Regions from separate parts of the Homo sapiens genome. Here regions 2 and 3 are each linked to region 1. The links come from fine-mapping of genetic effects on gene expression. A gene starts in region 1. Each other region holds a variant in brackets. All regions are shown on one strand. Distances are from middle to middle.

Region 1 (10,641 bases):
GAATGAAACTAGACCCCTATCTCTCATCATGTACAAAAATCAAATCAAAATGGATTAAAGAATTAAATCTAAGACCTCAAACTATAAAACTACTACAAGAAAACTTTGGGAAAACTCTCCAGAACATCAGTCTGGGCAAAAATTTCTTGAGTAATACCCCACAAGCACAGGCAACCAGAGCAAAAATGGACAAATAGCATCACATCAAGTTAAAAGGCTTCTGCACAGCAGAGGAAACAATCAACAAAGTTAAGAAACAACCACAGAATGGGTAAAAATGTTTGCAAACTACCCATCTGACAAGGAATTAATAACCAGATGTATAAGTATCTCAAATAGTTCTATAGGAAAAAATATAATAATCTGAATTTAAAATGGGCAGGCCGGGCACGGTGGCTCATGCCTGTAATCCCAGTACCTTGGGAGGCCAAGGTGGGTGGATCACGAGGTCAAGAGATCGAGACCATCCTGGCCAAAATGGTGAAACCCCATCTCTACTAAAAATACAAAAATTAGCTGGGCATGGTGGCATGCGCCTGTAGTCCCAGCTACTCGGGAGGCTGAGGCAGGAGAATCGCTTGAACCCAGGAGGTGGAGGTTGCAGTGAGCCGAGATTGCGCCACTGCACTCCAGCCTGCTGACAGAGCAAGACTCCGTCTAAAAAAAAAAAAAAAAAAAAAAATATATATATATATCTGAATAGACATTTCTCAAAGGAAGACATACAAATGACAAACAGGCATATATAGGTGCTCAACGTAATGAATCATCAGAGAAATGCAAATCAAAACTACAATGAGATATCATCCCTTCTCAGTTAAAATGGCTTATGTCCAAAAGACGGGCAATAACAATTGCAGGTGAAGATGTGGAGAAAAAAGAACCCTCGTACACTGTTGGTGGGAACGTAAATTACTACAACCATTGTAGAGAACAGTTTGGAGGTTCCTCAGAAAACTGAAAATAGAGCTACCCATGTGATCCAGCAATCCTACTCTGGATATATACCCAAAAGAAAGGAAATCAGTATATTGAAGAGACATCTGCACTCCCATGTTTGTTGCCACTCTGTTCACAATAGACAAGAGTTGGAAGAAGCCTGTGTCCATCAACAGATGAATGGATAAAGAAAATGTGGTACTTATACACGATGGAGTACTACTCAGCCATAAAAAATAATGAGATCCAGTCATTTGCAAAAACATGGATGGAACTGGCGATCATTATGTTAAGTGAAGTAAGCCAGACATAGAAGGAGAAACCTTGCATGTTCTTATTTATTTGTGGGGTCTAAAAATCAAAACAATTTAACCTGTGGAGATAGAGAGTAGAAGGATGGTTACCAGAGGCTGGGAAAGGAATTGGGGAGGGTTGGGGAGAGATGGGGGATGGTTAACCAGTACAAAAAATAGAATGAAACGGACCTAGTATTTGATAGCACAACAGGGTGACTATAGTCAATAATAACTTAATTGTATATTTTAAAACAACTAAAAGAGTATAATTGGATTTTTTTGTAACAGAAAGGATAAATTCTTGAGGAGATACCCATTTTCCACGATGTGATTGATATGCATTACATGCCTGTATCAAAACGTCCCATGTACCCCATAAATACATACACCTACTGTATACCCACAAAAAATAAAAATAAAATAAACAATTATTTTAAAAAGAAGAGTAATTGAACCTCTGATTATAAAATTTCAAGTTTTATGCAATTACCAGGCTCTACCATCTTAACAAGCCCTGTTTTGGGGCAAAGTGTATAATAATAAATTAGATCTAGATTATATCATCTTTTGAATTGAGGGTGCTTTTTGTGTGCCATAATTCTCTTCTCTTTTTGTATTGGGAGAAATATTAAATAGGTGGAAACCAACCCAGATCCTGAACTTAAATCATGTAGGACTTTGGTCACTGAAAACATAAACAATTAATAGCTGCTGGCCAGGCGCGGTGGCTCACGTCTGTAATCCCAGCACTTTGGGAGGCTGAGGCGGGCGGATCACAAGGTCAGGAGATCCAGACCATCCTGACTAACACGGTGAAACCCCGTCTCTACTAAAAATTCAAAAAATCAGCCAGGCGAGGTGGCGGGCGCCTGTAGTCCCAGCTACTCGGGAGGCCGAGGCAAGAGAATCGCTTGAACCTGGGAGGCAGAGGTTGCAGTGAGCCGAGATTGCACCACTGCACTCCAGCCTGGGCGACGGGGCGAGACTTCGTCTCAAAAAAAAAAAAAAAAAAAATAGCTGTTATACTATTGAGATGTTCTGATCCCACATCAGGATTGTAAATCCCTATGGTTGATATGAACTCTAAGATATGATCATGCTGTTATCCCTAGGGTAACTTGTTCTATTGATCAAATTGCTTGGGTCAATAAATTATAACACACTTTTATGAATAACTAGTCTAGTCCGGGTTTTAATCATTCAGAGGTTGTACGGTGCTCTGAAGTTACCCCAACTGAAATTTTTAGCCCAGTAGATTAAATATTATTCCTTTAAATAGTTAATGTTTTTTGTGTGTGGCCTAATTAAGCTCCATTGGGTCGTCTTGTTTTATCGCCGCATGAGAATCACTAAAGTTAGAGACTGACCATACCAAGCACTGACGAGGTTGTGGAGGATGAAGCTCTGCTGAGACAATGAAAAATGGTACAACCACTTTGAAAACAGTTTGGCAGTTTCTTACAATGTTAGTCTTACATCTATAACATGTTCCAGCCACTGCAATCCTAAGTATTTACCCTAGAGAAAGAAAGCACATTTCTCTGTAAAGACTCATACACAAGATCCCCTAAATTGAATACAACCCAAATATCCATTAGCAAGTGAATGGACAAAACGAATTGTAGTATATCCTATACTGTAATGCTACTCTGTAATAAAAAAAAAAAAACTATTGAAATAGGCAATAAAATGGACAAATCTAAAAATACATAGAGTGAATGAAAGAAGCCAGATCCCTAAAAAAAAAAAATAAAAAAAAAACCTCTATGATTATTTTTAAATAAATGAAATCTAATCTATAATGACAAAAGTGCTGTATTTGTCTGGAGACAGGACAGTGGGAGGAATGGGTAGGCTGGGTACAACAGAACTGAAAATGTTATGTCCTTGAAAATAATAACAATGATATATAAGCCTATACGGTTCCTTTAGGGGACATGGCAGGGTATCATTAGAATAGGGCAAACTAGATACTGAAGGACCAAGAGGGCAGAGTAGGAGATATCAGCCTTCATCACCCCCTGCCACAAAAAAACAAGTGTAGACAGCTATCCACAAACTAAAGTATTCATGGGAGGGCTCAGGGGCCCATTTAAGAATCTGCAGCAACACAGTAGAAAAAAAAATGGGGAATATCCACACAGAAAATATTGCTGGTGAGATCAGTATACTTGAGGTGCCAGGAGATGTCTAGGAGCAAAGAAGAAAGGCAAAGGCTATTGCTATTAGCCATGTGGCAGGAATCACCATGGTCCCCAGCAGTCTGCTCTGGAGAGGACACTGGCATCTTTCGCCACTGAGATAACCAACAGCCATTCCTGCCCAAGGAACCCCAGAGAGGGAGAAGTGGCTACACACTTCTCATCTCAAGAAGCAGCAGCTATTATACCACTCTGGGACCAGAGGTGCCACCTGTCCCAATGCTGCATGTGTCACTGACCCCCCCAAGCTACAACTACTCTGTAAATACCCATACTCCAGACCCCAGCTCTGTGCCTGACTGTGCCTGCCCATGCCTCAGACACCAGAGCCACTGCCATAGAGACCTAGCAAAACACCTTCACTCTTCAGATAACTCCCTGAGAAAACATACCAATTAGAGGAACTAGGCTGGGATCCGGGCCCCTAAGCCAAGGTCACTTTGCACATGTCTGTACTCCAGACACTAGATTAACATCCATTGAAGGCTAGCCCATACTCCAGACCCTGGATAGGAAGAATAATCTCTAGTGTTCTATAGCATTATACTAAATTATCAAACAATAATTTAATGTATTTTTTCAAATAGCTAGAAGAGAAAATGTTGAATGTTACCAGCACATATAAATGATAAAGATTTGAGATGATGGATATGCTAACTACCCTGATTTTATCACTACACATTGTATACATATATTGAAATATCACAGTGTACCCCCATAAATATGTACAATAATCATGTGTCCATATATAATAAAATATACATTTTTCAAAGTAAGACATACAAGTGGCCAACAGATATGTGAAAAAATTCTCAATATCACTAATTGTCAGGGAAATGCACATTAAAACCATAACAAGATATCACCTCACACTTGTTAGGATGGCCATTATTTAAAAAAACAGAAGATGGTAAGTGTTCACAAGGATGTGGAAAAAAATGGAACCCTTGTACAATACTGGGAATGTAAATTTATACAGATATTACAGAAACAGTATGGTCATTCCTGAAAAAAACTAAAAATAGAATTACCAAATGATCCAGCAGTCCCCCTTCTGAGTATATATCCAAAGGAAATGAAATTAGTACCTCAAACAGATGTATGTACTCCCATGTTCACTGCAGCATTATTCACAATAGCCAGGGTATGGAATCAACCTAAGTATCCACCAACAGATGAATAAAGAAAATGTCATACATGCACACAATGGCGTACTATTCAGCTTTTTGAAAAAAGAAGGAAATCCTGTCATTTGTGACAACATGGATGAACCTGGAGGACATTAAGTGAAATAAGCCAGGCACAGCAAGACAAATACCACGTAATCTCACTTGTATATGGAATCTAAATAAGTTGAACTCATAGAAGCAGAGAGTAGAACAGTAATTACCAGACAGAGGCTGGGGAGGGGTTTGGGGAGATGTTGGTCAATGGATACAAAATTTCAGTTAGAGAGGAGGGATAAATTCAAGGGATCTATTGTACATCATAGTGACCATGGTTAATAAAAATATATTGTACACTTGAAAACTGCTAAAAGGGTAGATTTTAAGTGTTCACCACAAAAAAAAGTACATTAGGTAATGCATAGGTTTATTAGCTTGATTCAGCCATTCTACAATGTATAAAATATATCAAAACATCATATGACTTTTTAATTGACACTTTATAAGTTATAGTTCATAAACAAATTTATTATACAACAGATATGGGAGAATGCATATTATAATCTCAAATTGGTAGGAAGGCCTTCTAACTAACTTTATATTTCAACATTCATTTGATAGTGTTGATGGGAATCACTGGTTATTATTTATGCAGTCAGAAATATATATATAAACTTATCATAAATGCATGTTAAACATAAAGTTTCTCCCTTGTCTATACTGTAAGAAAGTTTGAAACAGAACAAGAAGAGGCCTGACTTCATACAGGCATTCCTGATCCTGCAATAACCACAGGGCTATCGTCTTGCACCTATGTTATCACTGAAGGTTTCAGCAATCCTGTGGGTGAGCATTTTTATTTCCATTTTACAGAGTGGGAAACTGGGCTCAGAGAGGGTCTTTACCTGTCTCATCCTCCCGCGTCCCGCCTTTACAGGGAAAGTAGCCCCGGGACACCCTGGAGCAGGACACCACACTCACTGGGGCCAGAAGAGACCCACCTCTCTCTCCTTCACGAAACAGCCAGAGCGCCGATCCCCAAAGTGGGAACGAGGGGACGTCGATCTGGGGTCCTTTCGTCTCCCTAAACCCCACGGAGATTCAGGCCACACTGCTGGGCACTCACAACCTCCACTGAGTCCAAACGCCTGAAGGCGGTTCTCCCCAGGCCAAATTGGTCTCAATAAAAAGTCGTCACCGTCGCTAATATGACGTCAGGTTACTATGGCAACCGCGTAGCACTGGCTTGTCTTCCACACCTGAAAATGACTATGCACAACCCGCTCCTCCATCCCCAGCCTATCCCTTAAAGCAAAACACCTTCATTCTTCAGATAACTCCCTGAGAAAACATACCAATTAGAGGCTGGGATCCGGGCAATTTTCAAGACTCTCTACTCATTATGGTAGAGGAAAGGAAGTCCATGTTGTCAGGAATTTTGCTTTAAAAGTGACCTAAGGGGGCCGGGCGCGGTGGCTCATGCCTGTAATCCCAGTACTTTGGGAGGGCGAGGCGGGAGGATCACGAGGTCAGAAGATCGACACCATCCTGACTAACACGGTGAAACCCCATCTCTACTAAAAATACAAAAAATTAGCCGGGCGTGGTGGCGAGCGCCTGTAGTCCCAGCTACTCAGGAGACTGAGGCAGTAGAACGGTGTGAACCCGGGAGGCGGAGCTTGCAGTGAGCCGAGATTCTCAAAAAAAAAAAAAAAAAAAAGTGACCTTAGAGGAGTATCATCAGTACACAGAAGCCCAGAGAGGTGTCCTAGGACTCTGGGAGATGAGCTAGCCCTCTGAGGAGGAACATGTACAACTCACACACTATACTAGGCAGTTGGTTTTCTGTGGCAGAAAACAGATTGTTTATAATCAAGTGACTGAATGATCTAGAAACACAAAAACTGTCATTTGAGTAATAATACAGTTATTTCAGGGAGGCCGGACTAGAATAATATAATCATTTAGTAGGCAGGAATCCAGTCAATTAAAACACACAGTAGTTTGCCTTAAGGAAATTTTTTTTTTTTTTTTTTTTTTTGAGACGGAGTCTCGCTCTATCGCCCAGGTTGGAGTGCACGGCGCAATCTCAGCTCACTGCAACCTCTGCCTCCCAGGTTCAAGCGATTCTCCTGCCTCAGCCTCCCGAGTAGCTGGGATTACAGGCGCTTACCACCACACCCAGCTAATTTTTATATTTTTAGTAGAGACAGGGTTTCACCATGTTAGTCAAGCTGGCCTCGATCTCCTGACCTCGTGATCCACCCGCCTCGGCCTCCCAAAGTGCTGGGATTACAGGCGTGAGCCACCGCACCCAGCCCTGCCTTAAGGAAATTCTTATCCTTCATTCCTGGTATGTTTTTCCATGTGGAAAATACATCCATGACAAAAATACATGTAGCCTCTACACACTCACTCCTCTCTACGGCAGGAATGACTTATCCGATTGGAGAATCTGGAAGGAGACACATGATACTCTGCCCAAGCCCTCTCCCTTCAACTTCTTGGTAGTAAGCTGCCCTTCAGGAGGCACTTGTTCAGCTTTGCCTTCAGGGATGGGACTTAAAATAGGCCCACAGGTTTACTCCTCTAACTGTGTCTCACTGACTCTACAATTATTCCTATAGTTCTTGATTCACAATGCTTAATTCTTTAAGGGGCCCCCAAAATACTCTTCTGCTTCTAGTCTGAGCTCTAAACCAACTGAGAAACATAGGAAAAGAATAAGGAGAAACATATATTGACTTTATCTCTTATAAGGTGATATTGGAGAATGTGACTTAGATTTGCTGTCACGTGGGCTTACTATGAGTAAGTTCTAGAATTGACTTATCCACCCAGCAGTGCTGCATTGGGACAGTCATAAAGACCAAGGACTGCAATGTATATCTATCTGCTGTCTCCTAAAGGAGCCCTGTCTATGTGTGCCCAAGGAAAGTTACTTCCTTGCCAAGGGTTATCACTATAGCAGGAGAAAGTGTTTCAGGACACTTTCTTTGAGAAACACTTCTAAAATTGTTCAGAATGAATACTCACTAAGACAACCTCTCAGGTTTCCTCATAGAATGGTTTGTAGCAATGCCCTCTCAGTATCTTAATTCACATGATTGCAGTGGGAATTCTTCTTAAGGAGTTAGGTTTCAAATTTTAAGACTAGCATGAAAAATAGATATCATGTAAATTGCCCTTGGGAATCCCTTCAAGAAGGAATTGATGACATGTTCAGAAATCTGTACCCACATGTAAGCCAACACTCAGATGATACAATTATAACCAAGTTTCACTAAGCCTTCAAGGATAAGAAAATTCCTTTCTTACCCAATGATAACACAACACAGAAAATGAGGAAAAGTTCACCAAAACCATAATGTTTTAGATATCCGTTCCTTCTTAACAAGCACCCTTAATTAATAGCCATTTATTTTCTCTCAGTATTTTGTGTGTTAACTGGGCCCAGCTGGATGTTTTCTGCTCTATATGATGTCTGTCACCTGGGGCTGCAGTCATCTGGAGGTTCCACTCATCTGGGACATCTGAGAGAGCTCACTCACATGAATGATGACTGGTGTTGGCGTCTGCTGGGAGCTCAGTTAAGGCTGTTGACCTGAGCATCTTGGCTCTCCACAGAGCCCTCCACGTGTACAGTTACCAGATTAAAATCAACTCAGTTAACTTTAAATTCCGGATTAATAGGAATATTTTTTAGTTTATGTGGCATGCAATATTAGTTTATTTAAAATTAAAATCCAACTGGATTTTAATTAAATAAATAAAAGTAAATGAAATAAATAACAAAATAAAAATTTTAAATCGTCTTATTATTTGCTAAATCTGGCAATTGCAGGGGATGACCCTGTGAATCTCTAAGTTTAATGACCATCTGAGCTGATTCTTCCAATGGGACAGGTCTGGGGAAAATGAGCAGATTGGATTGGCAATAAGGACAAAAGTTGGTAATACTTGGTGTTGGTGGAATGAAAAGCCAGCAGACGCTCACATATACTGTTGGTGCCAAGTGGATATATCTGTTTTCCAAGGCTCATATTATAACTTAAGACATTAATGATCTTTGATGCCAAAGTCCTATTTTTCCACCAACAAGGGAGTTTCAGCTGAGGGTTTAGAAAAGACTCATCAAGGTGACTACGATGTGCGCCCTCTTAAGGGGCCCTGGCTGAGGTGGCAGCTCAGAGTAACATGAGTTCCCTGCTTGGAGGAGGAAAAGACAGCTACTATTTTGTAAGGCAGATGGTTTAGCTGGGCCCAGCTCCAGTTTCTTCACATTAGTGTCTGGATTTAATCTCATGACAGCCGTGCTGGTGAGGTACCAGTATCCTCTCTTCCTCATGGATGTCAGTGACTATAAAGCACGTGCTCCTAAACACAGAGCTGAATGGCAAGGAGGTTACTCACCAGGCCCACTGCCAGAGCCAGGGATAGAACCTGCCAGCCTGGGCACCTTGAGTTGCTAGTGGTAGACCTTTAGCAAATGTATCTGGACATGTACTGTTAAGGAGGTTAATCTCTGTTCTCCTTGCTTACCCTCCCTGCAGTAAGGTTGGTGCCCCCTCTCCTTACTTCAGGGGAGGTTTGTGAGAGGGCTGACAGCAGAAGCCTTCTGGAGCCAGTTTTTCTTTCATCCTTTATGAAAACTTAATTTGTTGAAAGGACCGGGCTGCTTGTACCTGGTAGGGATGTGGGGGCCTCTCAGGACACAAAGATGGGAGAGGAAGGAAGATTTCTCCCAGACAGGGATGAGGCCTGAGGTCTACAAATCTCTCCAGGAGTTGGGACCTGAGCATTGCTCTGTATCAATGTTTGTGGTGAATTAGTGGATGGTCCTTCGAGTCTGGGCATCCATCCATGATTCAGATTTGATTTTCCTGTTTTGATCCAGGGGTAGATGACTCAGGATCTGGGACATGAAGGCACTGGGCCAACTAAGGAAATGGTCATCTCAGCCCTGAGCAGTGTGGACACGAGTGGTTACAGCAGGAGACTCTTGAGGCCATATCAGGAGGATACATTCCCAGAAGTGGAACTGTTTTGTCAAAGAGCATGACCATTTAATATTTTTAATGCTTCCTATATAGTTGAACTTTAAAATTTCTTTAATAGTTCTTATATTCCATCCAACAATTTGAAAACATCTGTTTTTCCTGATCTGTGCAAAAATAGGTTTCACAGATTTTTAATATTTTTTATTCTGAGATCCTGTTATTGGTACATTAGATTTTCTTTATTTTTCCCTATCGTATTATGTTTTAAATAGTGTATTTCACAGGTGCATTAAAAATGCTTAGCTAATGGTTCCATATTATACCTTAGAATATGTCTTGGAATAATTCTAGAGTTTGAAAAGAAAACCCAATCATCGAATTTGTGTTTATGTTGCATCCTGTTTGAATTGAAATGTTGGGGCCACGAGAAGCCCATACATAGCTTGGAGCGGACAAATTGGTACAACTTCTTTGTGGAGATATTGAGCAGCACCCACAATAGAAGCATGTGAGGCTCTGTCATCTGCTGCCCTCTCAGATGTGCATTGCAGAGTCTCGGTACATAGCAAACCTGTTCACAGGAGCATGGGTAAATATCAAAATAGTCCCAAAGTCACCTGGTTAGAAACATCTCAGAAACACTATTTTCAGAAGAAAACATTTCGATAATAGATATATAAATATGTTACTTATATAGAGATAAAAATATGCAAAGCAATTATGTGTTTAGTTTAGGGATGTATTCATGACTAAACAAGAAATTTTGGATAGTGGTTCCTTCTGAGGGCGCTGAGGCAATCAGGGAACTCACACAGGAGAGTCCACTCTGTAATGTTTTGCTTCATAACCTTGGTTGTGTACGTGTTTGCCTACTATCATATTTACAATACCTTTTGAAAAGTCTGAAATCTATCAAATTTGACATGAACAAAGCTCTAATGTGTTTTATCTCTGATTAATAAGTAACCCACTGTCTATTTAAAAAATGTGGAAAGTGCATTCAAATACCAATATGAATATTGATAATATCTAACCCCAC
Region 2 (10,641 bases), 730 kb before region 1:
AAGAAAAGTATTAGTGCCCATGTAAACATGCGTGGCTTGTCAAGGATCACATGCACAGACAGTTCACACTTACTCCTAAACCCGGCATGGCCACAGAGTAGAAAGGGTGTGTAGTGCGTTATATGAGGAGAGCACTGGCTCAGGATTGTGATTTCTGTGATCTCTATATTAATGGCAATGTTTTAAAAAATTACATAACATTTCTGAGTTTGCCTTTTCTCATTTGTAAAATGGAAACAATTATAGCTACCAAAGACAACTGTTCTGAAAGCAAAAGAACAAAATATTTTAAGCGTCATACACAGCATAGGGTACGTACAGTACTCAACACATCTTAGTCCCTTTCCTATCCCATACCCGTCCTTCCTTTAAAGGAGATTCCTTTGACATAATCCAAAAGGCATGGTTCCATAACGATCACATGAAAGTTTTAAGGGAAATGTATAGGTTTCCATGATGAATTAACTGCTGTGTCACTACTCTGTGCTGGGTAAGAAAAAGGAAAACAATCGCTGAATCAGTTTCCTAGGGTTTGTAAAAGAAATCCATCAAAGCCACCACCTCATTTCGCTTTATTTCACAGACTTCCCCATCTCATTTTTTATGTTCTATGCTAATTTCTCAAGAAGAACAGGCCCGGCACCACCTCTGCGCACAACCCCGCGGGCCTGGCTCAGGCGGGAGTGCGGGGCCAGCACCATGAGCGCCCCGGGCAGCCCCGACCAGGCCTATGACTTCCTGCTCAAGTTCCTGCTGGTGGGCGACAGGGACGTAGGCAAGAGTGAGATCCTGGAGAGCCTGCAGGATGGTGCAGCTGAGTCCCCGTACAGCCATCTCGGGGGGATCGACTACAAGACGACCACCATCCTGCTGGACGGCCAGCGGGTGAAGCTGAAGCTCTGGGATACGTCGGGGCAGGGAAGATTTTGTACCATATTCCGCTCCTACTCTCGTGGTGCACAAGGAGTGATCCTGGTCTACGACATTGCAAACCGCTGGTCTTTCGAGGGTATGGATCGATGGATTAAGAAGATTGAGGAACATGCCCCTGGTGTCCCTAAAATCCTGGTGGGGAATCGCCTACATCTGGCATTCAAGAGGCAGGTGCCCAGGGAGCAGGCCCAGGCCTACGCCGAGCGCCTGGGTGTGACCTTCTTTGAGGTCAGCCCTCTGTGCAATTTCAACATCATAGAGTCTTTCACGGAGCTGGCCAGGATAGTGCTGCTGCGGCACAGGATGAATTGGCTCGGGAGGCCGAGCAAGGTACTGAGCTTGCAAGACCTCTGCTGCCGCACCATCGTGTCCTGCACACCTGTGCATCTGGTGGACAAGCTCCCGCTCCCCAGTACCTTAAGAAGCCACCTCAAGTCCTTCTCCATGGCTAAGGGCCTGAATGCCAGGATGATGCGAGGCCTCTCCTACTCCCTCACCACCAGCTCCACTCACAAGAGCAGCCTCTGCAAAGTGGAGATCGTCTGCCCACCCCAGAGCCCACCCAAAAACTGCACCAGAAACAGCTGCAAAATTTCTTAAGGAAGGCACCAAAAGGAAACAAGCTGGAATCGCTCCAGGAAAAACTCTGGTTACACCTGGAAGATGGAAGTCGCATTGTAGATTCAAGAAATTAGTTTTCAGTTTCTCACGGGAACCATGCTGCTTGGGAATGTGTGTGATGCCTTCTGTCAATAAAAACACATTACACAGTTTGACTTTGAATTTCTATTTGGATGTGCATGAAGCTCTTGTTTTAAACGTGTGTTTATAAAGGGGAAATTAGTACTTTGCTCAACTCTTGATAACGTGAAATTTTGAATGTTACTTATATCATAATCACGCTGCAACTTTTTCCTTAAAATAACCGCCTTTGTTAGAATGGTGATATGGCAATGATGAGTATAAATTCAAGGAAATTTGAGAAGCAATGATAGTGAGATAATTCAGTCATCGATAGTACAAGAGGGGCCTTTTTGTAAACCTCCTTTTTAATGTCAAAGCACCAATTTATAAAACACTGCAGATGCATATAGAGATTGTATATAACAGATCTGTCCAGCTTGTGCATGAAATGGATTTGATAAAGTTTTTGCTATGTTATTTACTACATTTGGGGATTAATACGTGATTTATATGTATGTTTTTCTGTAAATCTACTTTTTTTGTACGAGATGTTCTACAAGATATGAAGCTAAGGGAGGAAAACACCAAAGATATCTCTAGTTATGTTGAACATAGCCAATATGGTTTCAATGGATCAATAAGAAAAAACCATTTCAGTAAGGAATGAAATACGTACTTATTTGAGAAAATGTTTCTTAACAGTAAAAAAGTATATATTTTTCTCTTTGGTAAAACGAAAAGAGAGGAAAAATATGTATAGTGTAACCCCGCAAGATGAGGCTTTGCAGAAAAACAATGCAATAGAACATGGCGGGGCAGGCCCATTATAAGGCCTTAGGTGAGTCATTTCCCCTGTGCTGGCCAGTTTTGGTTAACACCTCTCAGATCAATATAGAGGTTAATGAGATCACATCTGGGAAAGCACTTCTGAGACCTTAGATGGGAAAGAAGGAGAAGTGGTTTCCACGTAGTTACTTTCCAATTTACACTGTTGATTATTATAATAATTGATATTGGATGAACTGAGTAAATATAAGTCCTTGTACTCTTTTGTAATTGAATGACCATTTATTTGTGCATTGTCATAGGGTGATTGTAACAAAGTCCCGCAGAAGGGCAGTATCTCTGGCCTCACGGAGCTGTGGGGACTCACCCTTCCTGAACGCTGGTACTTTTCTATCTCATGAATTTCCCACAACATTCCTGGGAGGTAGAGGATATAATCTCTACACCATCCTGTAGCTTAAGAAACAGGGATGTTTGCAGGTTAAGCAACCTGGCTGGGGAGCATCCTGCCACTAAGTGGAAAAGCAGAGACTAGCATCCTATATGCCCCCAGGCAGACTGTGATGCTGAGCTGCACATCACAACATAACCAAGCAAATCTTGCTTTCCTGCTGACCTGGGTCACTACTGAAATCTGTATCTTCAGCTCTGAAGCCAGGCTGCCAGTTCTGTCTCTCTTATGAAAGACAGAGAACCTTGTCAGACCTAAATTTCCTACTCTGTAGACAAGGGAGTGTGTCTGGGCCATTGCTTTAGAAACGAGTCCGCAGACAGTTCCTGTATCAGGAAGAATATGCACTCTCAGAGGGACAGGGGCCATGCTGAGGGTGAATACTTGAAGGAGCAGGCCCCAAACACATGCAGATCGGGGATGCATAGAGTCTTTAATAGAAATTACCAAATCAACCTTGAAAGAGGTTGTACTAAATGACATCCCCACCACCAATATGAAACAGGGTAGGCTTCCCCGCATGCCCACCTTACTGGAATCCTGAATGGTTTCTTTTTATACTTTGATGATATGACAGGTGGAAATTCTTTCATTGTCATTATATTTAATTTGATGTTCAGATAACTTAAAAAATTCCCTAGTATACAAAATGCTCTGATAATCATCATTGCATTATATTTTTATTGCAAACTGGTCCATTTTCATATGTAGCCTAAAAACAATGAGCAACAGGCACATTAGCCTGCAAGTTCTCCTAGAGCTACTGGTGGCATTATGGTTCCAGGGTGTGTTTGTGGCCTCTGGGGAATACTGATGGCAGTGTGTTTGTCTAGAAGATTAAGAACATCTCTCTGTGATATTAGTTGAATTCAATATTAGAGAAGAGCTGGAGTCTTTTTAAGTGACACAAGAGCTGGACCACAACATGCTTCTGAGCAGGCTGTAATCCTGTCCCTGTGATGGACAGCAAGCCTTTCTGTGACCTCACCTGCTCAGGTCAGGGTGGATCCCTCCAGAACGTAAGGTATGGCAATTGGCCTAAATCTGCTTCTGAACACTGAAGCTGAGTGCTCCCATCTTCCTGCCGTCAGTTGCAGAGACTGGAGAAGCTGCATCTTCTCAGACACCAAAACCACGGGTTCAGTCACCTGTGTGAGGAGCTCAGTGCTGGAAGATAAAATACCAGCACCTGTTTGACACATCGTGCATCCATCCATCCATCTGTCCATCCATCCATCCATCCATCCATCCATCTATCCATCCCCATAGTTAACAGGCATTAAAGTCAAATGACACCATCCCTCTGGTTAAGTTTTAGACTTCCCCAGAATAGAAACAAGGAAGTAAGGGGGTTGTGGTAAACTCAGTTTCTAGACCTAAGAAGAGATGGCTCCTTCTCCTTAATATTTCCACCCTGAGAGAGCCTCTTATCATTGATAATTTTAAAACATAATTTAAAACCCTAGACCTCTCTCTACAACCCTAGTTACTGTTCTCTTTACATATATTCTCCCATTGCAACCAAAGTTCTATGAAGAATTCTCAATACTCAACTCACATCCCTTTGCACCTCCCTCCACCTCAGTCCTCATTCCTCATCTAATGGTGCTTTGTTCCCGCACCCCTCTGTTGAAATGAACCCCATCAAAACCAACAGCCACCCCTTTGTCCCATTTATAGATCAAGAGTGTTAAAATGAACATCTATATGGAGACAAAGCTTCCCCCGCAATGACAAAATTCAGTTGCTTTTGTATAGACAAAGATTATATTGCAATGCTATATTTACCTAAAAGCTAGCATTGTAAAATAGCTTCCATAAGAGTCAGTCAGATAACGTGAAGGCTGTGCTACAGGAACTGTGCTATCAGTTGAAGTACAACATTTCCCCAACATATCCCATACTATTGCTTCAATAAAAGGAATTTTGCAAATAGATTTACTGCATGTTAGCAATATTTTTATGATCACTTCAATAAATTCTGTTTATTGTTTTATTTCTTTCTGAAGGAATTACTAAGTATGCAATGTAATCGCCTGAAATTAAAATGTTGTTTCAAAATTTGTCGTGGTTAAATATATTGCCTAAAAGCATTGTCTGATTGTTTAATATGCCATAATTTGGTAATATAATGGTGGTGAAATATAATAGTAGATAGAGGGAACTCTTGCAGTCTCCTGATTAGGTCAGAATTCTTCTACTGCACCACACAAATCATAATTCTGGAATTCCTTTTGGAATGTTTCCATTTGGTAAACTATCACAACTATATGATAAGTGTACATGATTCCATACTGATATAAATTAAGTGTTTCCATTGACAAAGAAATGGGTCAGAGAAGACAAATTGTCTCAATCAAATAATTCTAAACAATATATGTGGCTAACCCTCAGTTCATGAGGTGAAGTTTAATTCTGTCCTCTACCTCCTAAGAACAGGGCTGACTTAGTGACTTACTTCTACAGAAAAGAGTATAGGAATGTAAAATAGTTACCACACACTGGAGAAATTTGGCAAACAGTACCTTAACCAAGTGATGAAGGTTAACATCACCATTGATATCATATGGGTAGCATGTAAACCCATATATGGTGTGATAAAAAGGGCAATTCATCTCTG[C/T]GGTATTCCTTCTGAAAACCCATAACCTCAGTCTAATAATGAGAAAAACAAGTTATGCCTGTACTTCTCATGAAATCAAGCTTATGAAAATAGTCTGGCCATACCTCAAATGGTTAACAGGGAGTTACCATATGACACAGCAATTCCACCCCTAGGTACATAGCCAAAAGAAATATGCCTACATAAAAACTTGTACCTGAATGTATACAGGATCATCATTCAAAATAGCCAAAGAGTGGAAACAACCCAAATGCTCATCAATTGATACATGGATAAAATGTGGTATATTCAGCAATAAATATGGATGAGGAACTGATATATGCTGCAACACAGATTTTGAAAACATTATGTAAAGTGAAAGAAGCCAGATGCAAAAGACCAAATATTGTTTGATTTCACTTATATAAAATGTCAAAAACAAGCAAATCCACAGAGAAACAAAGCATATCTGTGATTGCCTAGGGCTGGGGGTGGGCACAGGGATTAACTGCATTCAAGCAGGATGGGTAATCTTAGGGTGATGAAAATGTCTAAAACTCAACGATGAAGTCCCAGCTACAGCAATCAGACAAGAGAAAGAAATAAAGGGCATCCAAACTGGAAAAGAAGAAGTCAAATTATCCTTGTTTGCAGATGACATGATCTTATATTTGGAAAAACCTAGACTCCATCAAAAAACGATTAGAACTCATAAACAAATTCAGTATAGTTGCAAGATACAAAATCAACATACAAAAATCAGTAGTGTTTCTATATGCCAGCCAAGAGTGAACAATCTAAAAAATAAATTTAAAAGTAATCCCATTTACAATAGCCATAAATAAAATTAAATACACAGGAATTAACCAAAGAAGTGAAAGGCCTCTATAATGAAAGCTATAAAACACTGATGACAGAAATTGAAGATGACGCCAAAAAATGGAAAAGTATTTCATGTTCATTGATTGGAAGAATCAATATTGTTAAAATGTCCATTCTACTCAAAGCAATCTACAGATTTAATACAATCCCTATCAAAATACCAATGACATTCTCCACAGAAACAGAACAATCCTAAAATTCATATAGAATCACAAAAGACCCAGAATTCCCAAAGCTATCTTGAGCAAAAAGAACAAAACTGGAGGAATCACAATACCTCACTTCAAATTATACTACAGAGCTATATCACCAAAACAGCATGGTACTGGCATAAAAACAGACACATAGACCAGTGGAACAGAATAAAGAACCCAGAAACAAATCCACACACCTACAGTGAACCCATTTTCAACAAAGAACCTATACTGAGGAAAAGACAGTCTCTTCAATAAGTGGTGCTGGGAAATCTGGAAATCCATACGCAGAAGAATGAAAATAGACCCTCTATTTCTTGCCATATACAAAAATTAAATCAATATCAGTTAAAGGCTTAAATCTAAGACTTCAAACTATGAAACTACAAGACTTTGGGGAAACTCTCCAGGACATTGGTCTGGGCAAAGATTTCTAGAGTAATACCCCAACACAGGCAACCAAAGCAAAAACGGACAAATGGAATCACATCAAGTTAAAAAGCTTTTGCACAGCAAAGGAAACAATCAACAAAGTGAAGAGACAACCCACAGAATGGGAGAAAATATTTGCAGACTACCCATTTGACAAGGGATTAATAACCAGAATATATAATGAGCTCAAACAACTCTATAGCAAAAATAACTAAACTGATTAAAAGGTGGGCAAAAGATTTGAATAGACATTTCTCTAAAGAAGACATACAAATGGCAGACAGGCATATGAAAAGGTGCTCAACTTCATTGATCATCAGAGAAATGCCAATCCAAACTACAACAAGATATCATCTCACCCCAGTTAAAATGGCTTATATCCAAAAGACAGGCAATAACAAATGCTGGCAAGGATGTGGAGAAAAGGGAAACCTTGTACACTGTTGGTAGGAATGTAAGTTAGTAAAACCACTATGTAGAACATTTTGAAGGTTCCTCAAAAAAACTAAAAATTGAACTTCCATATGACCCGCAATCCCACTGCTGGGTATATACCCAAAAGAAAGGAAATCAGTATATTAAAGAGACATCTGCACTCCCATGTTTGTTGCAGCACTGTTCACTATAGCTAACATTTGGAAGCAACTTAAGTGTCCATCAAGAGATGAATGGATAAAGAAAATGTGGTACACATACACAACGGAGTACTAGTCAGCCATCAAGAAGAATGTGATTCAGTCATTTGCAAAAACATGGATGGAACTGGAAGTCATTATGTTAAGTAAAATAAGCCAGGCACAGAAAGACAAACATTGCATGTTCTCACTTATTTGTGGGAGATAAAAATGAACGCAATTGAACTCATGGAGGTAGAGACTAGAAGGATGGTTACTAGAGGCTGGGAAGGATGGTGGCAGGCTGGAGGGGAGGTGCATATGGTTAATGAGTATAAAAAAATTAGAAAGAATGAATAAGACCTAGTACTTGGTAGCACAACAGGGGGACAATAGTCAATAATAATTTAAGTGTGCATTTCAAAATAACTAAAAGAGTATAATTGAATTGTTTGTAACACAAAGGATAAATGCTTGAGGGGATGGATACCTAATTTTTAATGATGTGATTATTACACATTCCCTACCTGTACCAAAATCTCATGTATCCCCAAAAATATATATGCCTATTATGTACCCACAAAAATTAAAAATAAAAGATTTTAAAACCCTCAATTATGAAGATCATTGCACAACTCTATACATTTACTAAAAATCACAAAATTCTATCTTCAAAAGCATGCATTTTATTGTCCATAAATTATACTACAAGAAAGCCGTTTAAAAATATGATATTGCCCTGGTCTTCTGTTGTACCACAGTAGTGACCAAACTTTTTCATACAAAGGCTGTGATGTACATCTTTTATATAAATGTGAATGCATGTAAAACGGTAGCTGTATCCCAGCCCTGCTGACTCTTTGTCATATGTTCCTCCAAGGATTTTCCCCTCCTAACACTATCCCACATGTTACTTCGGGTTTTACTCGGGTGTAAAGTTTGATTTTCATCTGATCACTTCCACATGTTCCAACTGTGGCAATGGCTTGAGAGTAGGTCTACAACAAAGTATAGGGCATTTACTGTCTAACAGGATGTCATTACTATTACTTTCTTCACTCCCCTGTGTGTTTTCTTGCATGACTTCACTTAGGGAGTCTAAATAGCACTACCTTGATGAGTGTCAGTGTGGCAATATTTATCAAAAACCTACATATGGACACACTGTTTGCACAAACAATTTCCCTTGAACAAGTTTATCTTCAGAATGTAAGGAAGGATGTGGATAAGGATATGGTAAAAAGAACTGCTATTCTGATAATTCCCTTCCTTTACTTCTGGGCCTTGTGAAGCCTGAAAGAACCAGTCCTTCAAGATAAATCCTGGGTGTTTAACTGGGCCTAAATTCAAATTAGAGCCAAGTGGCCATTTGCTGAGTAGAGGTCACACATGACTTCGAGTTCCCAGAAAACCTGAAAGTCTGCTTAACTTTGGGACTTTCATAGCTGCCTGTTCCTTTTTATGGTGCTTGAACCAACCAATAAGCTTTCACCTATGTCAACCAATCAGAACTAAGCAAGTTGGAATCCTTCATTTGCATAAGTTGACCTGAGTGGGAACCTGGGTGAGAATTTTCTTCATAAAAGACAAACCTTCCCTTTGTCCTCTGGAACACACCTTCATTTTATACTGAAGGCTACATCTCCCCGATTTGCAAACTATTCACTGGAATAAAGTCTCTTTCCTCTAAATTCCTTTTCAGAGAACTTTTGTTCTCAGCCTGAATTTAGGAAGGGAGACCAAATGAGATGCAAAGCCATGAAGGAAAAGAAGGAAGCAGAGGAAAATGTGGTTGTCATCACACACACAATCACGCCAGCACATACACAATCACACACACACACACACACACATTTATACATGGACCAGGCTCTTTTTATCACAATACTAGTATTCTTCTATGACAGTTTGGTGAGTTCCAAGAGGACACATTTGGCTCACCAGTCCAAACAGCCACAGGAACTGTGCCCGGAACTGTGCCCTTCAGCGGAGCACATACTTTGAAAAGATGCCATCGACACAGTGTTGACATTAGGGAGTATCAGAACACTCTGAATAACATGGAGTTCTGAAAATTATGTTACATCCACAGCATGAAATTGTAGGTAAGCAATAAAATGAGTTACAATGAAGACAATGATGAGAGAGAATTTTTTGCCTATCAGATTAGCTACCATGCCCATTATTTCAATGTGTGTAGAAACAGGCACTTTCATACTGTGATGTTAGTGTTACTGAGCAATGGGCTTGGTCACCAATGCACATAGAAGCCAATACTATGGCACTAGCTTTTGAGGAAAGAAAAAGCTTTATTGCAAGGTCGACCAGCAAGGAGACAGGACCAGCAACACTCAAATCTGTTTCCTCGAGCTGGGGTCTGAAGGCAGAGAGTAACTATGGGGGACATAGGGAAATGCAACCAGGCATGATCTGATTGGATCATGCAAAGAAGTGGTGCCAAGTCCTTGGCTTTTAAGTTTGTACTGGGAAAAAAACAGGGAACCACTCACTTCTCATTTTGGTCCTCATTTCTCAATCTGAATACTTAGATTCCACATGTGGTTGACATTTTCTGTTCTGGCCAGTTCCAGGTTCACCAATCAGGCATACTTGGTTCATCTGGGCATGCTCAGGTTATATGACTTGCAACCTGGGGATCCACTGCATCTAAAAAACAACTCATCACTTTGTTACAAAGTCAAAGCATATTGAACGGTTCTGTGGTTACATTAGGAATGTAAATTAGTAGTAGTATTTTGAACCATTATGTTAATATAAAATGTTCTAATTTCCAGGGTTTTGAAAGGACTCTTCAGGAGCTTATAAAGAAATGCTTTAAAAGATATCTGCATATATAAAAGCTGGTGTTAAGTATACTATTGTCTGTAATAGAAACTATATTAAAAGGAATTAAATTTTCACCACTAGAGTACTGGGAAAATAAAGTTTAGGGCATCATATGATGAAACACCAACTCTATACAAAAAATTGAAATTGAATTTGAAAGATGGTCATAGTAAAGGCAAACACAGGTTACAAAAGTCCTAAGTAGTATGGCCGGGTGCA
Region 3 (10,641 bases), 140 kb after region 1:
ATGTATGTCTTCTTTTGAAAACTGTCTGTTCAAGCCTTTTGCCCCCTTTTGAATAGGGTTGTTTTCCTCTTGTAAATTTAAGTTCCTTATAGATACTAGATACTAGACCTTTGTCAGATGAAGACTTTGCAAATATTTTCTCCCATTCTGTAGTTTGTCTGTTTACTCTGTTGACAGTTTCTTTCTCTGTGCGGAAGCTCTTAATTAAATCCCACTTGTCAATTTTTGCTTTTGCTGCAATTGCTTTTGACATCTTCATCATGAAATCTTTGCCTGTTCCTATGTCCAGAATGGTATTACCTAGGTTGTCTTCCAGAGTTTTTATAGTTTTGGGTTTTACATTTAAGTCTTCAATCCATCTTGAGTTGATTTTTTGTATATGATGTAAGTAAGGGTCCAGCTTCAATTTTCTGCATGTGGCTAGCCAGTTATCCCAGCACCATTTATTGACTAGGGAGTCTTTTCCCCATTGCTTGTTTTTGTCAGGTTTGTCAAAAATCAGATGGTCGTAGGTGTACAGCCTTACTTCTGGGCTCCCTACTTTGTTCCATTGGTCTATGTGTCTGTTCTTGTACCAGTACCATGCTGTTTTGGTTACTGTAGCCCGTATAGCTTGAAGTCAGGTAGTGTGATGCCTCCAGCTTTATTCATCTTGCTTAGGATTGCCATTGCTATTCGGACTGTTTTTTGGTTCCATATGAATTTTAAAATAGTTTTTTTCTAGTTCTGCAAAACATGCCATTGGTAGTTTCATAGGAATAACGCTGAATCTGTAAATTGCCTTGGGCAGAATAGCCATTTTAATGATATTGATTCTTCCTATCCATGAGCATGGAATGTTTTTCCATTTGTTTGTGTCATCTCTGATTTCTTTGAGCAGTGTTCTCATTGTAGAGATCTTTCACTTCTCTGGTTAGCTGTATTCTTACGTATTTTGTTCTTTTTGTGGCAATTCTAAATGAGACTGCCTTCCTGATTTGGCTCTCAGTTTGGCTGTTGTTGGTGTATAGGAATGCTAGTGATTTTTATACATTGATTTTGTATCCTGAAACTTTGCTGAAGTTGTTTATTAGCTAAAGGAAATTTGGGGCCAAGACTATGGGGTTTTCTAGATATAGAATCATGTCGTCTGCAAAAAGAGATAGTTTGACTTTCTCTCTTCCTATTTTGGATGCCCTTTATGTCTGTCTCTTGCCTCATTGCCCTGGATAGGACTTCTAATACTATGTTGAATTGGAGTGGTGAGAGAGGGCATCCTTGCCAAAGCTCAATCTTTGGACTTCCTCTCTTACTACTCACACTATCTACATCTCTTAGTCATCTCATCCAACCTCTTGGCTTTAAATACCACCTATACCTTCATGTTTCTCAAATTTCTACCTCTAGTCTGGACCTATCTCCAAAGTCCCAAACTTATATCTCCAACTGCTTACTTTCCATCTTGACATGGATGTCTAAAAGGCATCTGAAATGCAATAAGTGATATCTGTATTCACTGAGCTGCTCAGCATCAGAATCAATTCCTCTTTTTCTCTTACTCTATATTTGATTCATCTACAACATCCATTGAATCTACCCACTAAATATATTTCAAAGCTGGACACTTACCACCACTTCCACAGCTGAGATCTTATTCCAAATCAATATCATCTGTTACCTGGACCACTGCAATTGTTTTATAGGTACTAGTTATCCTTCTTGCCTCAATTCTTGTTTCTCTAGAGTCCATTCTCTACACAGTAGCCAGGATTACTATTTAAAAATATAAGTCATGGCCAGGCATGGTGGCTCACACCTGTAATCCTAGCACTTTGGGAAGCTGAGGCAGGTGGATCACTTGAGGCCAGGAGTTTGAGACCAACCTGGGAGACACGGTGAGACCCCGTCTGTATTAAAAATACAAACATTAGCTGTGTGTGGTGGTGCATGCCTGTAGTCCCAGTTACTTGGGAGGCTGAGGCACAAGAATTGCCTGAACCTGGGAGGCAGAGGTTGCATGCACTTAGCCGTGACCATGCCACTGTGCTCCAGCCTGGGTGACAGAGCAAGACTGTCTATCTCTCTCTCTCTCCATATATATATATGGAGACAGCATATATATATATATATATATATATACACACACACATATATACACACACACATATATATATACACATATATATACACACACATATATATATACACATATATATATACACATATATATATACACACATATATATATATATGTGTGTGTATATATATATATAATATCTCACAGCTCTCCAGCTCCCCTTGCCAAAACCTTCTAGTGGCTTTCTGTAAGACTTAGAATCCAAACTTCTTTCCATGGCCTGTAATATCTTACATGATCTGGCCCCTGGCTACCATTTTAAAATCATCTCTCACCATTCTCCCCTTGCTTCCTCCATTTCAGCCACACTAGCCTTCTTGCTGTTTTTTGAGCAAGCCAAACACATTCCTACCTAAGGACCACTGTATTTGTTGTTCCCAAAGCCTAGAATATTTATCTGTTAGATAACCTCATGACTTGCTCCATCACTTCATTCAGGTATTTGCTCAGAATGAACTTCTCTGACTATCCTATCTAAAATAGTATCCCTCCTTCCAACACCCTCATACCCTGTTTTATTTTTCTCGGTATCATTCACAACCACTTAATATTACATATTTATATATTTAATTTCTTATTATCTGTTTCCCTCATCCCTAAATGTAAGCTCCATGAGGATGATGTTTTGTTTTATTCTATGCTGTATTCCTAGAACCTAGAAACAGTGTTTGGGACAAAACAGATTGTTCAATTTGTTGAAAATATAAAGACCCCTTGAACATATGGTTTTCTGTTGATTATATAAATCATATCAGTTTACACTATATTTAAAATCTGGGAAGAGACATTATGCTTCTATAAGCATCTATCACTGACCAATCAGACAAAGAAGCACCCCCATAAAATATTTAGACAAATTATTTTGTTAGAGACAATATTTTTGGCTGGCAAGTGTCTCACCCAGTAGGTTTTTAAAAGTTTTAATTCAAATTGCTTTTTTAGAGCTACCTGCCCACTCTTCCCTAAATTACTGACTGTAATTCAATTAAAATAGGAATGGGGGGAGAAAGAGAGAGGTGGAGATTTTTGTTTGTAGTAAGTTCAGTTCATTCTAGGTTTACTTTGAATGTACATTTCAAATTTAATTTTGGTTTTGTTTGTTTTTATTTTGGTAATTCACAAAATTGTATACACTTATCATATACAATACATTGTTTTGAAATATGTATGCATGATGGAATAAATTTGGCTAATTAACATAGCCATCACCTCACATACCATTTTTTGGTGAGAAGATTCGAAATGTACTCTCTTAACAATTTTGAAATATGCAATTCATAATTATTAACTATAATTGCAATACTGTGCAATAAATGTCAAAAACTTACTCCTCCTGTCAATGTGAAACTTTGTACCCTTTGACCAACACATCCCCATTCCTGTTCTCGCTCCCATCCTCTGGTAACCACCATTCTACTTTCTACTGCTATGAGTTTGACTTTTTCAGATTCTATATATAAGCGAGATCATGGAGTATTTGTCTTTCTGTGCCTGATATATATATATATATATATCAACAACTGAAATCAGTATGTTATATATATATATATATATCAACAACTGAAATCAGTATTATATATATATATATACATATATATATATACATATATATATATTTGTATATATTACATACTGATTTCAGTTGTTTTGTACATATACCAAGAAGTGGAATTGCTGGATCACATGATAGTTCTATACTTAGTTTTTTTTAGGAATCTCCATACAGTTTTCCATAATGGCTGTACTAGTTTATATTTCTAGAGTGTACAAGAGTGCTTTTTTCTCCACATCCTCATCGACACTTGTTATCTATCATCTTTTCAATAATAGCCATTCTAACAGGTTTGAGTGATACTGCACTGTGGTTTTAACTTGCATTTCCCCGATGATTAGTGATGTAGAACATTTTTTGACATATCTGTTGGCCAGTTGTATGTCTTCTTTTGAGAAATGTCTATTGAGGTCCTTTGCCATTTTAAAAATAAGGTTATTGTTTTCTTGCTATTGAGTTGAGCTCCTTATGTATTTTTGATATTAACCCCTTAACAAATATATGGTTTTCAAATATTCTCTCCTGTTCTGTAGATTGTCTCTTCACTCTGTTGTTTCCTTAGCTGTGCGGAAGCTTTTTAGTTTGAAGTAATCCCACTTGTTTATTTTTGCTTTTGTTCCCTGTGCTTTTGGGTTCGTAACCAAAAAATAAATGCCCAGACCTATGTCATGGAGTTTTCCTCTTATTTTTTGTTCTAGTAGTTTTACAGTTTCAGGTCTAATGTTTAAGTCCTCAATTCATTTTGAGTTGATTTTTATATATGTTGTAAGATAAGGGTCTAATTTCATTCTTCTACATGTGGATATCCAGTTTTTCCAACACTATTTATTAAAGAGATTGTTCTTCCCTCATTGTGTATTCTTGGAACCTTTGTCAAAAATCAATGAAGTATAAATGTGTGAGTTTATTTCTGGGTACTCTCTATATTTAATTTTCTATTTTGCCATCTAAAGCAGGTAGTAAGCTAATGTACACACTGCTACACTGGAATTGAACATAATACTGGAAAAGTGCTCTAGCTTTGATAGGATTTATCAAGTTTGAAAGTCTAAACTTCTATGAAACTCTATACTTTTACCATAAACACAAGGCTTCCTTTTTTTCCAATCTGATGTAAAATGCCAAACAAATACATAAATGTTTGAGGATGTTTTAGTTTGTTAGTGCTGCCACAACAAAATACCACGGGCTGGGTGACTTAAACAACATAAATTTTTTTTCCCATAATTTTAGAGACTGGAAATCCAAGATCAAGATTTTGGCAGGTTTAATTTGTCCTGAGGCCTCCCTTCCCTGGTTTACAAATGACCACCATCTTGCTGTGTCGTCACATGGTGTTTCCTCTGTGCATGTGCACCTCCAGTATTTCTGTGTGTCCAAATTTCCAGTTCTTATAAGGACACCAATCAGATTGAATTAGGACCCACCCTAATTAACTTAATTGCCCCTTCAAAGGCCCTGTCTCCAAACATAGTCACATTTGGAAGTACTTGAGATTAGTGCTTAAACATGAGAATTTTGGGGTGGACAGGATTCAGCCCATAACAGAAGATTAACATGGTAAAGAGAGTATTCAAATGAACTCCTATCATATTTATAGGAACTCTACCACAAGACAGGTTACCAAGTTGTTTTTTAATTCACTTGTGAGGTAAAATTTACAGAACTGTGAAATTTCACAACTCCCTTTTGGTAAGGAAATCTGGAGTGTTTGACACTCATCAATTTTCCCCTTATTATGATATACCCATGTGAATTCATAGATGGTAAAATGCCAATAACTGGAAGTAAGAATGTTAAAGATATCTACATAATGCCCAAAACTCAATGAATAGCCTATTTTACCACATTTATTTACCTATCTATAACTTGCTTGATTCTGTGACCACTGCCTTCACTGTAAGTTGTATAATAGACTAAGTAATGTATCCCTCTCCACAATATTCCATTTTCTAATCCCTGGAAACTGTCAATATGTTACCTTACATGGCAAAAAGGGACTCTGCTCATATAATTAAGTTAAGGATCTTGAGATGGGAAGGCTATCCTTGATTATGCAGTTAGTCCCAACATAAGCAGAGTCATTAAAAGAGGGAGGCAAGAAGGTCAAAGACAGAAAGAGGTGGGACAATAAAATTAAAGGCTGAAATGATGTGAGAAAGAGA[T/C]TATAAGCCAAGGAACACAGGCAGAAGCTGAAAAAAAGGCAAGAAAACGGATTCTCCTCTCACAGCCTCCAGAAGGAGCCAGCCCTGCTAACACCTTCACTTAAACCCAGCAAGACTAAATTTGAACTTCTGGCATCTAGAATAGTAACATAATAAATATATGTTGTTTTAAGCAATCAAATTTATGGTAATTTGTTACAACAACAGGAAAATAGGAAAAGCAGTCTGATTTTTAGGAGTAGGAAGGTATACTAGAACTGTTCTTTAGGGAATTACTTGGGAAATTGCTGGGTATATTGATACTGAGCATATCACAAAGTCAGTCCGTACTCACTCAGCCCTAAACTTGCTGCTGTGTGCCCCAAATCCTAAGGCTATAAGACAATAGCTGGTAAGACCTTGTTGAAGAACAAAGACATTACTTCAAATTTAGAGAATAGTACCAAGGCCAATTTTCAAGGCTTAGATACCTTAAGCTTGTTTATTGCTCAGAAAGGAAAGGTGAACTCATAAGTATTATTTTGTGATAAAACTGGCATACAGAAACAAAATGGATAGAAAAAAAACTCAACAAGCTTTCTACAAATATACTGACTGCTTAAATATGTTCCCTAATGTCTACTGAGTCTTTTGAAAAGTAGCAATAGCCCCCTCTTTTCCTGTGTCCTTCCTAGACCCTTTATTCTAGGAAAATGCTATTTGTAATTTTTAAGTAGGTATGGGAAAATAAATATATTATTATCAATGTTTTGTAAGAGATAACTGCTAGTATTCTTTGTACAGCAAACTATAATAGCATTTCCCAAACATCTAATTAACAGAATTTCTCCCCACAAGGATTAATAATGATGAATTATTTCCAACTAACACATATGGTGGTTGCAAACCGCTGATACACAGAGTCTATGAAAGTAGTAAAATTTTAAAAGTCTCTACCTTGTGTTTATCACTGGAATTTCAGCTTCTGCAAAATATGGATAGCCTATTTTACCACATTTATTTACCCATATATAACTTGCTTGATTCTATGACCACTGCCTTTACTGTAAGTAGTACAGTAGACTAAATAATGTATCAGCCCCCACAACATGTCAATTTTCTAATCCCTGGAATCTGCGAATATGTTACCTTACATGGCAAAAATGGACTTTGCCTATGAAATTACATCATTCACAATGTAACCTGCTAAATTTAAAAAAGCCTCACAATCAAACTGAACAGAGGCTATATAGTTCTTGCTTAAAGCTTCAAGGACAAGTGTCATCACTATCAAAATTACAAAGCCCCTTTTTGCAGAAATGGAAAAGCAGATATTAAAATTCATATAGAATTGCAAGGGGCTTCAAATAGCCAAAACAATCTTGAAAAAAAAAAAGTTGGAGAACTCACAATTCCCAATTTTAAAACATACTACAAAGCTACAATAATCAAAACAGGGAGGTACAGACATAAGGACAGATATGTAGATTAATGGAATGGAATTGAATGGCCAGAAATAAACACATCTATAGACAACTGAAGTTCAACAATGGTGCCAAGACCATAAAATGTGAAAGAATATCTTCAAAAAATATGGCTGGAACAACTAGAAAGCTACATGTCAAAGAATGAACTTGGACTCCTACCTCATGCCATATATAAAAATTAACTCCGAATATATGAAAGGCATAAATATAAGAGCTAAAATTATATTGGGCAGTGCTTCTGTTATACCTTTCATTGATAAGGAATACAAAGAAAGAAAGCTGTTCTCAAACTTGTTTTTTCTAAGGATGACATTATGGCTCCTACATGGCACTATGGTTAAGGAACTTATAAGTAAGATTACTTCTAACAAGAAATGTTCAGTCACATAAATGAGAACTCAAAAAATCAATACAACAGAGACTTCTGATTTCCAGTCTGAAATGTAAAGTGATTGGAAGTCATTACTCTCATTGTTAGTATAAGAAAAAAGCTGAACAAACTGAAAATTAACAGCTCTTCTTAGATCCATCAGAGAATTGAGGTCACAGGACAAGCCACTGCCCCCAAAATTGAGAAAAAATGTGGTTACTGAAAACCACAGCTTACTGACATCAGAATCTCAGGAGCAGACGCCCACTGCTAGACCCAGTAGTGGAAGGCTCAATGTGGACTAGCTTTACAGTTAAAATATCTGGAGGTTCCTCTCAGAGAGGCTCCCAAATCTTTGTGAGTTTTGCCTCCAGGAGCCCTGACAGGTTCTCAATATAAAGACTGGTAAAAAAAATAATAAAAATAAAAATAAAAATAAATAAAATCCCCTCATGTTTCTAGTAGGAAGACAGGGGTTGGCGGTGGGGGCAGGGGTGTGGAGGGGGGAGTAACCATTTGAAATATGCCCAGAGTATTCTGTTCTCCTTAAAAATCCCTGCTTCCCTAAAGGGAAACTATTTTACCAGAACCCAACTGAATTGGGTTTTATCAATGCCTATCCGACTGTAAAGAAGGGAAATACCCAGATCTAGTACCCATTAGCCTGATACAGGGTAAGGAAAATAACCAATTCAGCCCCATCTAGGATTCCCGTATCACCTAGTGGGAAGAAAAAACTGAGAAAAACTTGTGAAGGTCATAGCACAGGGGTACTAGGTCACTAAAAGACTAAGACCTAATCATAAGACAATAGAATATATACCCCTTGTACCCACTGCTTACCACTACATCAATCAGGCTAATGTCTAATAACAGGGAATTACAGCTGGAACAACTGTTAAGTATCAGACCTTATATAAAAAGTAATCTCCGGGGAACCCAAAGACAACAGAATAGGAAAAAGCAGGGATAGCAGAAGAAATTTTAGAGTTTGACATCTATAGCTACAACAAATATTGAATATAGCCTGATTCTTAGACAGATAAACATAAAGCCTCACACTTAAGGCCTATTTTACTGAGTTCTGTTGCCTAATATATCATGTCTAGCTTTGAACAAAAAATTGGAAGCCATGTTAAATTGCAAAATACAGTCTCAAGAGTCAAAGTAAGCATCAGAACCTGACTCAGATATGGCAGATATTTTTGGAACTATCAGACTAGTATGATAAGGGCTCTAGTGGGAAAAAAATGGACAACATTTAAGAAAAAATGAGTAATATAAACAGAGAGGTTTGAAAACCCTATGAAGAATGAGGGGGAAGGACAAGATGGCTGACTAGAAGTAGCTAGAGTATGCCACACTCACAAAGAGAAGAAACAGTAGCAATTAAACACTACATCTTCAACTGAAACATGCAGGTGAACATATTGGAATTCATCAAGGAAACAACTCGACCCACGAAGAACAGAGAGGAGTAAGACAGGATCTCTGTCCATCTGGGAGGTTCCCTCTCCATGGGAAATGGTGAGTGAGTGAGAAACTTCAGGAATCCACACTTAGGATCTTTGGAACTCTAGGATCAGGAGATCCCCCTGTGAGCCCACTCCACCAGGGCCTTCGGACTGATACACAGAGCTATGTGGAGACTGGACAGAGCCACACTCACATATATGCAGAGTCCCAAGGAGCCCTGGATCCCCAGGCATCCTGGCATTAGCAGCTGCAGCTCTGGTAAAAGGGGAGGTAGGCCGGGTGCGGTGGCTCACGCCTGTAATCCCAGCACTTTGGGAGGCCAAGGTGGGCGGATCACGAGGTCAGGAGATCAAGACCATCCTGGCTAACACGGTGAAACCCTGTCTCTACTAAAAATACAAAAAATTAGATGGGCATGGTGGTGGGCACCTGTAGTCCCAGCTACTCAGGAGGCTGAGGCAGGAGAATGGCGTGAACTCAGGAGGTGGAGCTTGCAGTGAGCCGAGATTGTGCCACTGCACACTCCAGCCTGGGGGACAGAGCTAGACTCTGTCTCAAAAAAAAAGGTTGCGGGGAGGTAAGCCTCACTTATACAACCCCAAGAAAGGTGCTGAATCCAGGGCGCTGAACAATGAAGGTCTGCAAGCCTCACAGGCTGAGACACACTGGTCTGGACTTTAGTTACCCCCTACTAGGGCTCTTAGGCCTGTAACAACTCCTCACCTCCCAGACAGGTGGGCTGCCATCTTTGTAATCTTGCAGTCTTCAGGTTCTGGAGAGTCCCAGGCAACTACCGTGTGGCACAGACTCCCAGCACAGTGTGGCCACCCTAAAAAAAGCAGCCAGACTGTTTTCTATGTGGGTCTCCAATCCCGTTTCTTCCCACTGGGCAGGACCTCCCAACCTGGGACTCCAGCCACCCCCTCGCTGGGGTTCTCATGCTGGTGGCAGCTCTGCAGATCTCTGGGACAGAGCTCAAAGAAGGAGCAAGCCAACATCTTTGCTCTCTTGCAGTCCTTGCCTTTGCTACCTTCAAGCTCTCACGAGTCCATGGTAACTAGGCACTGGTGCAGACCCTCAGCACAGTGCAGCTACTCCATGGAAAAGTGGCCACATTGTTCCCCATGCAGGTATCTGTCCCCACTTCTCACTGGGCAAGGCCTCCCAACCTGGGACTCCAGCAGAACTACCCTGCACCCACCTGAGCACTTCAATTAGAGGTGGCTCAGCATTTCTCCAAGTAGGAAATCCCAGAGTCAATTCAAAACCCTTCCACCACTGCAGCTGCAGTGGTACTGCCCTAACTACCCTTAGGCCGGGGAAGGAACAAAGGGCCTAGTTGTTGTATTGGCACTTCCAGCACACTGCAGCCACCATATGGAAGGGAGTCCAGTTCCTCTTCCTTAGGCGTCTTCATCCCCCTCTCTTCACCAGGCAGGGCCCCAGGCTCACAACTCCAGAACAGCTGCCCTACTCACTGCTGAGCATACCCCACT

Which allele goes with the higher level. Positions count from the first base shown, and alleles are read on the strand shown. Sizes are in standard deviations (SD) of each study's normalised expression. Not every link is listed here.
As copies of T replace C in region 2, the expression in lung of the gene that starts at base 5,792 in region 1 goes up (moderate effect, 0.64 SD a copy in GTEx).

What was found. PIP is the estimated chance that this variant, and not a neighbour inherited with it, causes the effect.
Region 2: its variant is the best candidate, but not a certain one, in a credible set for the expression of LINC00630 in lung (GTEx, PIP 0.61).
Region 3: its variant is the best candidate, but not a certain one, in a credible set for the expression of LINC00630 in whole blood (TOPMed, PIP 0.54).

What each region holds. Positions count from the first base shown.
Region 1 is chrX:102,764,304-102,774,944 of GRCh38, reverse strand. It overlaps LINC00630 (long intergenic non-protein coding RNA 630), which reads right to left and starts at 5,792. Exons shown (of 12, transcript NR_146589.1): 1 at 5,604-5,792. All of the region lies in intron 8 of ARMCX5-GPRASP2 (ARMCX5-GPRASP2 readthrough), which reads right to left.
Region 2 is chrX:103,490,815-103,501,455 of GRCh38, reverse strand. It overlaps RAB40A (RAB40A, member RAS oncogene family), which reads left to right. Exons shown (of 3, transcript NM_080879.3): 3 at 630-2,326. The coding sequence starts at 700. The coding sequence ends at 1,533. The region is part of intron 5 of LL0XNC01-250H12.3 (a long non-coding RNA gene); the gene reads right to left. Among named protein-coding and RNA genes, the nearest start is that of RAB40A, 23 kb to the left of the region's middle. The variant C/T (reference allele first, on the strand shown) is at 5,475.
Region 3 is chrX:102,625,103-102,635,743 of GRCh38, reverse strand. All of the region lies in intron 4 of ARMCX5-GPRASP2 (ARMCX5-GPRASP2 readthrough), which reads right to left. Among named protein-coding and RNA genes, the nearest start is that of GPRASP1, 21 kb to the left of the region's middle. The variant T/C (reference allele first, on the strand shown) is at 5,834.